2 linked regions of the Homo sapiens genome follow. The protein of the gene in region 1 interacts with the protein of each later gene in a biochemical or structural test. Each region holds a gene or a part of one and is shown on either strand. Other genes may lie near its edges.

Region 1 (3,751 bases):
AAACCCTCTCGGTGTATAGAGGTCAGTGCAGCCCCCTGCCGCCGCCCTGTTTTCTCGAGACTGTACACTAACCCCTGCCGCCACCACCCTGGATCCTCAGCACAGGGACTGTCGTGCTCTCCTTGTTCCCTTTCCAGGTGTCTCTGTAGCCTTCAGGACTGTCGCTGCTGCAGCCATCCTGGGCTAAGAGCTTTTGCTGGCCTCGGGTTCTACTGAGCAAGAGTCCCCCAGGCCCAGCGGGCTCAGTGCAGCAGGCGGGGTGGGACGGTGCCGCCAAGAGAGGGCAGCCTGGGGCTGGGGGCATGGACAGAAACTGAAGGAAAGGCAGCCTGTGGGAGCTGCGCTTTTAAAATAAGCGGCATGGGGGGCCGGGGGGGGCGCTGTGACGGGGGAGCAGGTCTCTTCTGTAGGGACTGGGTTTTGATTAAGTCAGTAGCAGGATTAAGTCATTGGGTCATCAGAAAATCTCATGGATAAAGTTCAAGGGGTTTGTGAACTTTAAAAAAAAAAAAAAAAAAAACAAAGAAATAGCCGTCGGCACGGTTCAAATCTGGGCTTGGTGCTCTGGGCTGCTTTTCCACAGGCCCTCCAGGCCCTGGATCTGCAGAGTGTGAGCCCCACTGATTGAAGCATGTTCGTGCACAGACGCCATGAGGGGGATGGAGGCTGCAGGAACGGGGGAAGGCAGGCGGGGGTCCTGTGAAGTGTGAGCTCCCAGCAGTTGCATGCTGGGGTCCTCAGTTTCATGTTGCCAGTGCGTCAGAGAGCCATCTCTCACTCCGTCCCTGCCACCGTCCAGTCCTGCCTGCTGTAAAGGGTGACACTGAGGAGGAGAGGCGTGATGGTTCGTGCCTTGCTATACTAGTTGTCCTGCAGCTGTCCCTGATCAGACTGGCCTTATTCAACCTTTGTTCTAAACTACGGCAGTTGTCCTAGCCAGGCCATCGGTTAGATGGAGCTGCTGCAGGAGGAGCCATCCAGCATTGAGGTACCCCTGGAACACAGGCTGCCTGCTCGGAAATGCGCATCTTTGTCCTTCTCCTGCCTGCACCTTGGAGCCATGGCTTTAAAGATTCCTTCTGTGATCTCCAAGAGAACCAGTCGAGCATCAACACTAACCATTTTGTTTTCAAAATGCTGAAAACTGCTCTGGGAAGCTGGAGGTGCTATCGAGGGGGACCCCATGGGTTTATGAAATGACAGCCGTTGGGGAGTGGGAGACACCTCCTCATCCTGTGACATAGCTGGCGGGAGGCCCAGGCTGCATAATGCAGATGGGCGCGAGGCCCCACCAGTGGGACAGGTCCAGGTCTGATGGTCATGTGCCCTGCCTCCCGCCCAGAACACAGTAGCATGTGGCCAGTCTGCACTCGGGCCAGCCTGCAGGGAGCCATTGTGCTCATGTCACCCTTTGCAGGAGCGAGCCCAGCAATGAGGAGGCAGGACATTACTCCCTGTGACATTGAGAGCAAGTTTTTCAAACACAAAGCTCATGTTAAGAAGCCTGCAGTGCACACAAGAAGTGGGGAGAGGGGTGGGAACGGAGGACACGGGTGGTGATGGGAGGGGCATGTGGGCTTGTCAGAACACTCTGTGTTTGAAAATGTCAATAACAAGGAAGGGTTTTGTTTTGTTTTTAACAAAAATCCTGCTGTACCCAATATAAGCAGCAAGCACTGCGGTCCTCACCTGTCCTACACCGGCCATGGTGGCCCCTCGCGGGCAGTGCTCGCCTCAGGCCTCACTAAGCTTTGGGCACACGGTTTCTCTGGCAGCAGCTACCAGCGGGGATGCCAAGCCCGGACTCAGCTCAGAAGCAATGGAGGTGGCAGCGCTGGGGCGCGGGCTGTGGACTCACTCACCTGGACGCTCTGTTTCTGTACAGGTCGCACGGGGCAGGCGGTTGCAGTTCGAGCCAAGGCCTTTGGATTCAGCGTCATATTTTATGACCCCTACTTGCAGGATGGGATCGAGCGGTCCCTGGGCGTGCAGAGGGTCTACACCCTGCAGGATTTGCTGTATCAGAGCGACTGCGTCTCCTTGCACTGCAATCTCAACGAACATAACCACCACCTCATCAATGACTTTACCATAAAGCAGGTAATTTGAAAATAGATGCCATGGAAGCTTCTGTCGAAAGGTGGTAGCACTTGCTTGTGGGCACAAGAGGGACACGGAGGGCAACGGAGGTGGTTTCTGGATACACTGTTGAGCAGGGAAGAGGCCCTGCAACAAACCAGTGACAAGCCACGTGAAGCCCCTTCCTCGGGCTGAGCCAGGCTAAGCAGAGAAGGACAGGCGCTAGCCAGGACCCAGCTTCAGAAGCTTCCCAGAACCTTTAAAGAGGCCAGCAGCTCGGCACAGTCCAGCCTTTCCACCGTGTTGCTTCCTCTCAGGATCAGCAGCAACGGCCCTGGCTTCCAGCCGTCACCAACACTTCCCACTCCCTTCCCTCAAACTGCAGCACACACATTAAACCACCAGACCAACAAAACTAGCTTGCAGCTTTCTTCTTTAAACCTTGGTACAAGAGTCTTCCACCATGCCAGTGTGCCTGTAACCGGCTTTTCTTTCCTTCCACAGATGAGGCAGGGAGCATTCCTTGTGAACGCAGCCCGTGGCGGCCTGGTGGACGAGAAAGCCTTAGCACAAGCCCTCAAGGAGGGCAGGATACGAGGGGCAGCCCTCGACGTGCATGAGTCAGAGCCCTTCAGGTGCGTGTTGCCCCAGCCGCCTACCAGGAGCCCACAGGGCCCAGCTCCACACCTGACCCCCACACTTTGAACTCGAGGCCCTTTTCCCAAACAGGTCCCTGGGCAGGAAACTCCAGAGATGACATTTACAGTCTCTGTTCTTCTAAGGATTGTGCTGTATTCTAATTGTAAAAGGGCTGGAAGTTTCCCAGAGGTCATCAGGGAAAGGAGAGGCAGAAAATTGGTGGGGGTGTGGCAGTGGTTCTGGTCTTCAGACAGACAGGCATCATCTCTGCCCTGGATTACAGCAGGACAAGCCTTCAATAGAATTGGGCTTTTTGATCTACCAATTATACGGTTCTTACACAACTTTGATAATTACATTCAAAAATTCCCAGCCTTCATAAAATATCATCACAGATGTTCCTGTATCCATGCTATCTATGTAGCTACTTTTCTACATGGCCAAGAGCTCCCTTGTGCTGAGGAGGGCAGGGAGCGTATGCGACATTTCCCGCTTACTCTGTTTTTTCTACATTTTTCTAGCTTTGCTCAGGGTCCGTTGAAAGATGCCCCGAATCTCATCTGCACTCCTCACACTGCCTGGTACAGTGAGCAGGCGTCACTGGAGATGAGGGAGGCAGCTGCCACCGAGATCCGCCGAGCCATCACAGGTGAGCCCCTCCGTGCCTCTGGCCTGCCAAGGGCAGCCTCAGCTCCACAGTGCAGCCGGCTCCTGTCCTGCTGGCTACAGGCAGCTCTCGACAGGTAGAATTCACTTTTAGCATCAAATTTATATGAGTTGGGCCCTGTTTATTTACGTAAGCCCTGAACTAAACTTCACAGAGGGAACCATTCCCTTTAGTCCCAGACATTATAAACTCGGGGGTCGGGGGGCACACAGAGGCTGAAGGTCAGTGTTGAAGAGCTCAAGCACTTGGGCCTTTGGATGTTCTACATTTTTACAAATGCTTATTTCCCCACATAAGCAGCTACAGGTGTAATGTTGAACTTACTGTGATTTGTAAAAATAATATGATTAATTTTAATCATCTTAC
Region 2 (3,751 bases), on another chromosome or scaffold:
CTGAAATATCCTACTAGTCCTTTGGAATTGGGAAGGTAACAAAGAATCCAAGGGAATATGACTTGGAGGATAAGAACTCCAAAGTTAACATATCCACTCATACTTTTTAGTGAACAAAGATTACATTTAAGAAAGGAAGCTACTTTTGAAAAATATTTCTTATTCCCATACAAATCTAATGTTATATTCTTCACACAATTTGGCCAAACATCAAAAAACTTTCTCTAAATGGTATCACTTTATTTAAAACTTGAATACACATTAAGTTATTTTCAAGGAAAGTTCATCTGGGAAGGTGTTTTCTTGAAATGTAAAAATAAATTACAGAATGTAGAATAAATAAAATTAGTTTATTCACTTAATACCTTTTGAGGAAAAGTTATATATTTAAATAGGGTTTGATTAAAATGCAACTGAGAAGTCCATTGTTGATCTGTCCTGGTTATGGGGAAGAACAAAAACATCGATACTAGAAATCCATACACTAGTCCCAAATCCTTCATTTTAGCTAGAGTGTTAGGTTTAATCTTGTCCTCTTAAAACTTTTTCCAGTGGTAACAACTAATAGTGAAATGGCTAATTAGACTTTCGTTTCTTTTTTAAAAATCATTTGAAAAAAGAGCTAATTAGTTCTTGAATAGCAAGGCCTCAACTAGCAGAAATAACATGGATGAGAAAGTCCTTGGACAGTTCATGAACAAGAAAAATGAGTTACCTTAACTGTAATGCAAAGTTAACTTAATGGACATTACTATAATAATATGGATACATATAGATATAGGCAAAACATAGATATATTAATAGATACAGGCTAGACAATTGATATAATCAATGACTATCTTAATTTATCCCCAGATTACCCCCAAACAAAGCAATGTATAAATCTTTGTATTAACTCTTAAACATATAATGAAATTTTAAATTGGCTGAACATAAAAATCAGGAGCAAATCACTTAATTGCATTGTCTTCCTTCCTAACTTAATAATACCAACTTAATATATGGCAAGTCACATAGCAACCAAATTGATGCAATTTTACTATTCTTAAGGTCTCTAACTGCAATTTATAGAAAATTCAAACTTGTGTGTTCACCCAAGAAATACTAAGATATATAATATTAAACTTGATAGTCCCTCTTACTCCATAATTTTACAAATGAACTACTTTGAAAGTTACCAGAAGTGGAAAACATACCTACTCTTTTATTTCAAGTCATATCTCCAAGTTTTAGCCCTAAACTCTTAAGCAATTAGAGATAAAAATGTTAGTTCATTTATATTTACATTGCTGACTCCATTGAACTTTAAAAAACCTAACTTCATGACTAATGATCTTTTACAGGTAAACTTTCTTAGGTTGTCTTTAACTCTTAAAAACCAAAATGACTATATTGGTCATCTTAAGATTTGTCTGTTTTTAAATCCACTAAATAATTATTCCTAGATTTTTCCAGAAAAAATCTATGCATTGATATTATTTCAAATTCATAAATCAGGAAATTATTTTTATGCTATCTTACAAGCAATAGGTACTATTCTATCTGTTTTATTGCTAAAACAACTATTATACAGAATACAGGTTCCTTTAATTTGTGGCACGTGTAAAAATAGGTTTTCCGAAATGTTGCTCAGTCAAAAATGTAGAAAATAAAAATCTCCAATATGAGAAGTATTACAGACCAAAGAGAAGAATTATTTTGCATTATATTCAATTATCCCTAAAATTCAGAAAAAAAATAACTTATTTGTTTCAAAACAAAAACCTGTCTTAATATTTGGCAGGAGAAAAAAAAGACATTCTAACTGTGTATAACAATGATCAATGTTTTCAAATATAGGTAGTATTCCCAAAACATTTTTAAAAATAAAAATATCAAAGACAACACAGTAGATAATTAACCCTAAAATTATAGATTGAATATCAATAGAAGAAAGACTTTTAAAAGACCCATAGAACAATGAAAAATAGCCATACTCAATTATTTGCATAACATAATTTTAAGGTTATAGAAATGATCCAACTAGAGGTTTTCATGTGACAAATATTAAATAATAAATTTAATATATAATATTCTTATTTTAAAACAATAATTGTTTTATGCATAAAATATTGACTATAACCTACCCTTTATAAAAATAGCATAGAACATTAAAATGCCAATGCGCAAGTTAGGAATTCGTACGGCCTAAAATTGTTATATCATCTCAAATAACAAAATGGTAATTATTCAATATGAATGGATTCCAACTTCTGGGAAAGACCCTCTACCGAACTGCTAACAAGATTATTCTCTAACCAGAACATTTTACTTTCAACATGCATGCTAATTTCCAGTATCTGCTTCACTTTTCAAGAAGAAAACATTCTGCCTCTTAATTCACCCTTTCATTATACTTCACCACAAATTATTTGGCACCTGATCTAGACCAAACATTTATGCACTACGCTCTGAAAAGATCAAGCAATCTAAAAGTTTTATGAAAACTCTACTTTTATGGTATAAAGAAGAGTGCCTTTTCCTAATCTTATACAAAAATAAATTACTTGAGTTTCTCCTTTTCAAGCTCTATATTAACTACTAGAGAGCAGATAATGACATTCATTTGCAAAAAAAAAAAAAAAAAGTGATGTCCACCTCTTCCTGCACCCATAGCCAATACACTTCAGTGTGACTGGAGTTGGGGACATATAAGGCAGTAAACACATTACTAGAGACAACAGCTTGAAGAAGAAAATAACAATAAAACTGCACACACAACACATTTACTAATCATAAAGAGATGCATTGGTAAAAGAAAAAAATCATCATTTCTGTCATAAATTTTGCACTGCAGCCCCAGAATGGAGAACAATCTGGGCAATTTATTGGCATATTGGCAGGAGGTGATAAGGCTAAAAACAACAACAGCGAGCAGCTGTGCGGGGAGATGGGCTGATAGCATGATATGGCTCCCACACCAAACACCTCCCGTCCTATCAGGGCTTTTTATCAAACCAGGATTACAATAATAGCTTATGAGAGAAAGCTTCTGAGGGGAGGGCAGAAAATATAGTCTTGGAATAGGAAAAAAAAATCTGAATTTTGGGACAAAACATGGGGGCAAAATACATAATTTATCACTGTATTATCAGGAAATCCAGGCAGTCTAATCAAGGAGCACTGAGTGACTATTTTTTGCCTTATCATCCAAAGTGGTGGAAACGGAGAAGGAATTATCAGGCTTCTGCAGATTGCTGGGCTGGAATTTTAATGGTAATAATCGGGTTTCTGATGGTATATCTTCTCCGCTTATCTTTCCCATTATCTCCTCTTATCTGGCCAGTCATCATAGCAAATTAATGGTGCTCTTTCAGCGTCGCCTTTTTATCGCTGCCCGGAGAGCACCCAAGGGGAAAGAATAAGCAAAATATTAAAATACTGCATAAATCACAATTTTAGATAGCAGGGAACTGTATGCAGTAAAAGAAAAAAAAAACTGTGCCCAACAACCTTTTTGTCCTTTAAATTGACTGTCTTCAGAGTTTCTGGTATAAGCTGACTTTTTGCTTGTCATAGTTGCTTCAAATTGGGTATGTTTTATCAGCAGTGCCAAAGCTTTATTTTCTAATCCTGGACATTTCCAAGTTTAAAATGCAGTTTTATTACTGGCGTGAAATGCTATTGTTTCACAGAGCATAGCTTTCTGAGATTCTCCAAACTTATATTTGATCCAGAACATCAAAAGTAACAGTGTTGTTTGTAATAGAAA

Evidence for each region.
Region 2: the proteins of CTBP2 (region 1) and ZFPM2 form a complex in vitro, tested with the Homo sapiens proteins (2 studies listed by BioGRID).

The regions. Positions count from the first base shown.
Region 1 is NC_000010.11:124,992,818-124,996,568, reverse strand, and holds part of CTBP2 (C-terminal-binding protein 2), read left to right. Parts: intron 1-1,885; coding exon 1,886-2,100; intron 2,101-2,583; coding exon 2,584-2,714; intron 2,715-3,239; coding exon 3,240-3,367; intron 3,368-3,751. UniProt on the Homo sapiens protein: Corepressor targeting diverse transcription regulators. Functions in brown adipose tissue (BAT) differentiation. Isoform 2 probably acts as a scaffold for specialized synapses.
Region 2 is NC_000008.11:105,321,327-105,325,077, reverse strand, and holds part of ZFPM2 (zinc finger protein ZFPM2), read right to left. Parts: intron 1-3,751. UniProt on the Homo sapiens protein: Transcription regulator that plays a central role in heart morphogenesis and development of coronary vessels from epicardium, by regulating genes that are essential during cardiogenesis.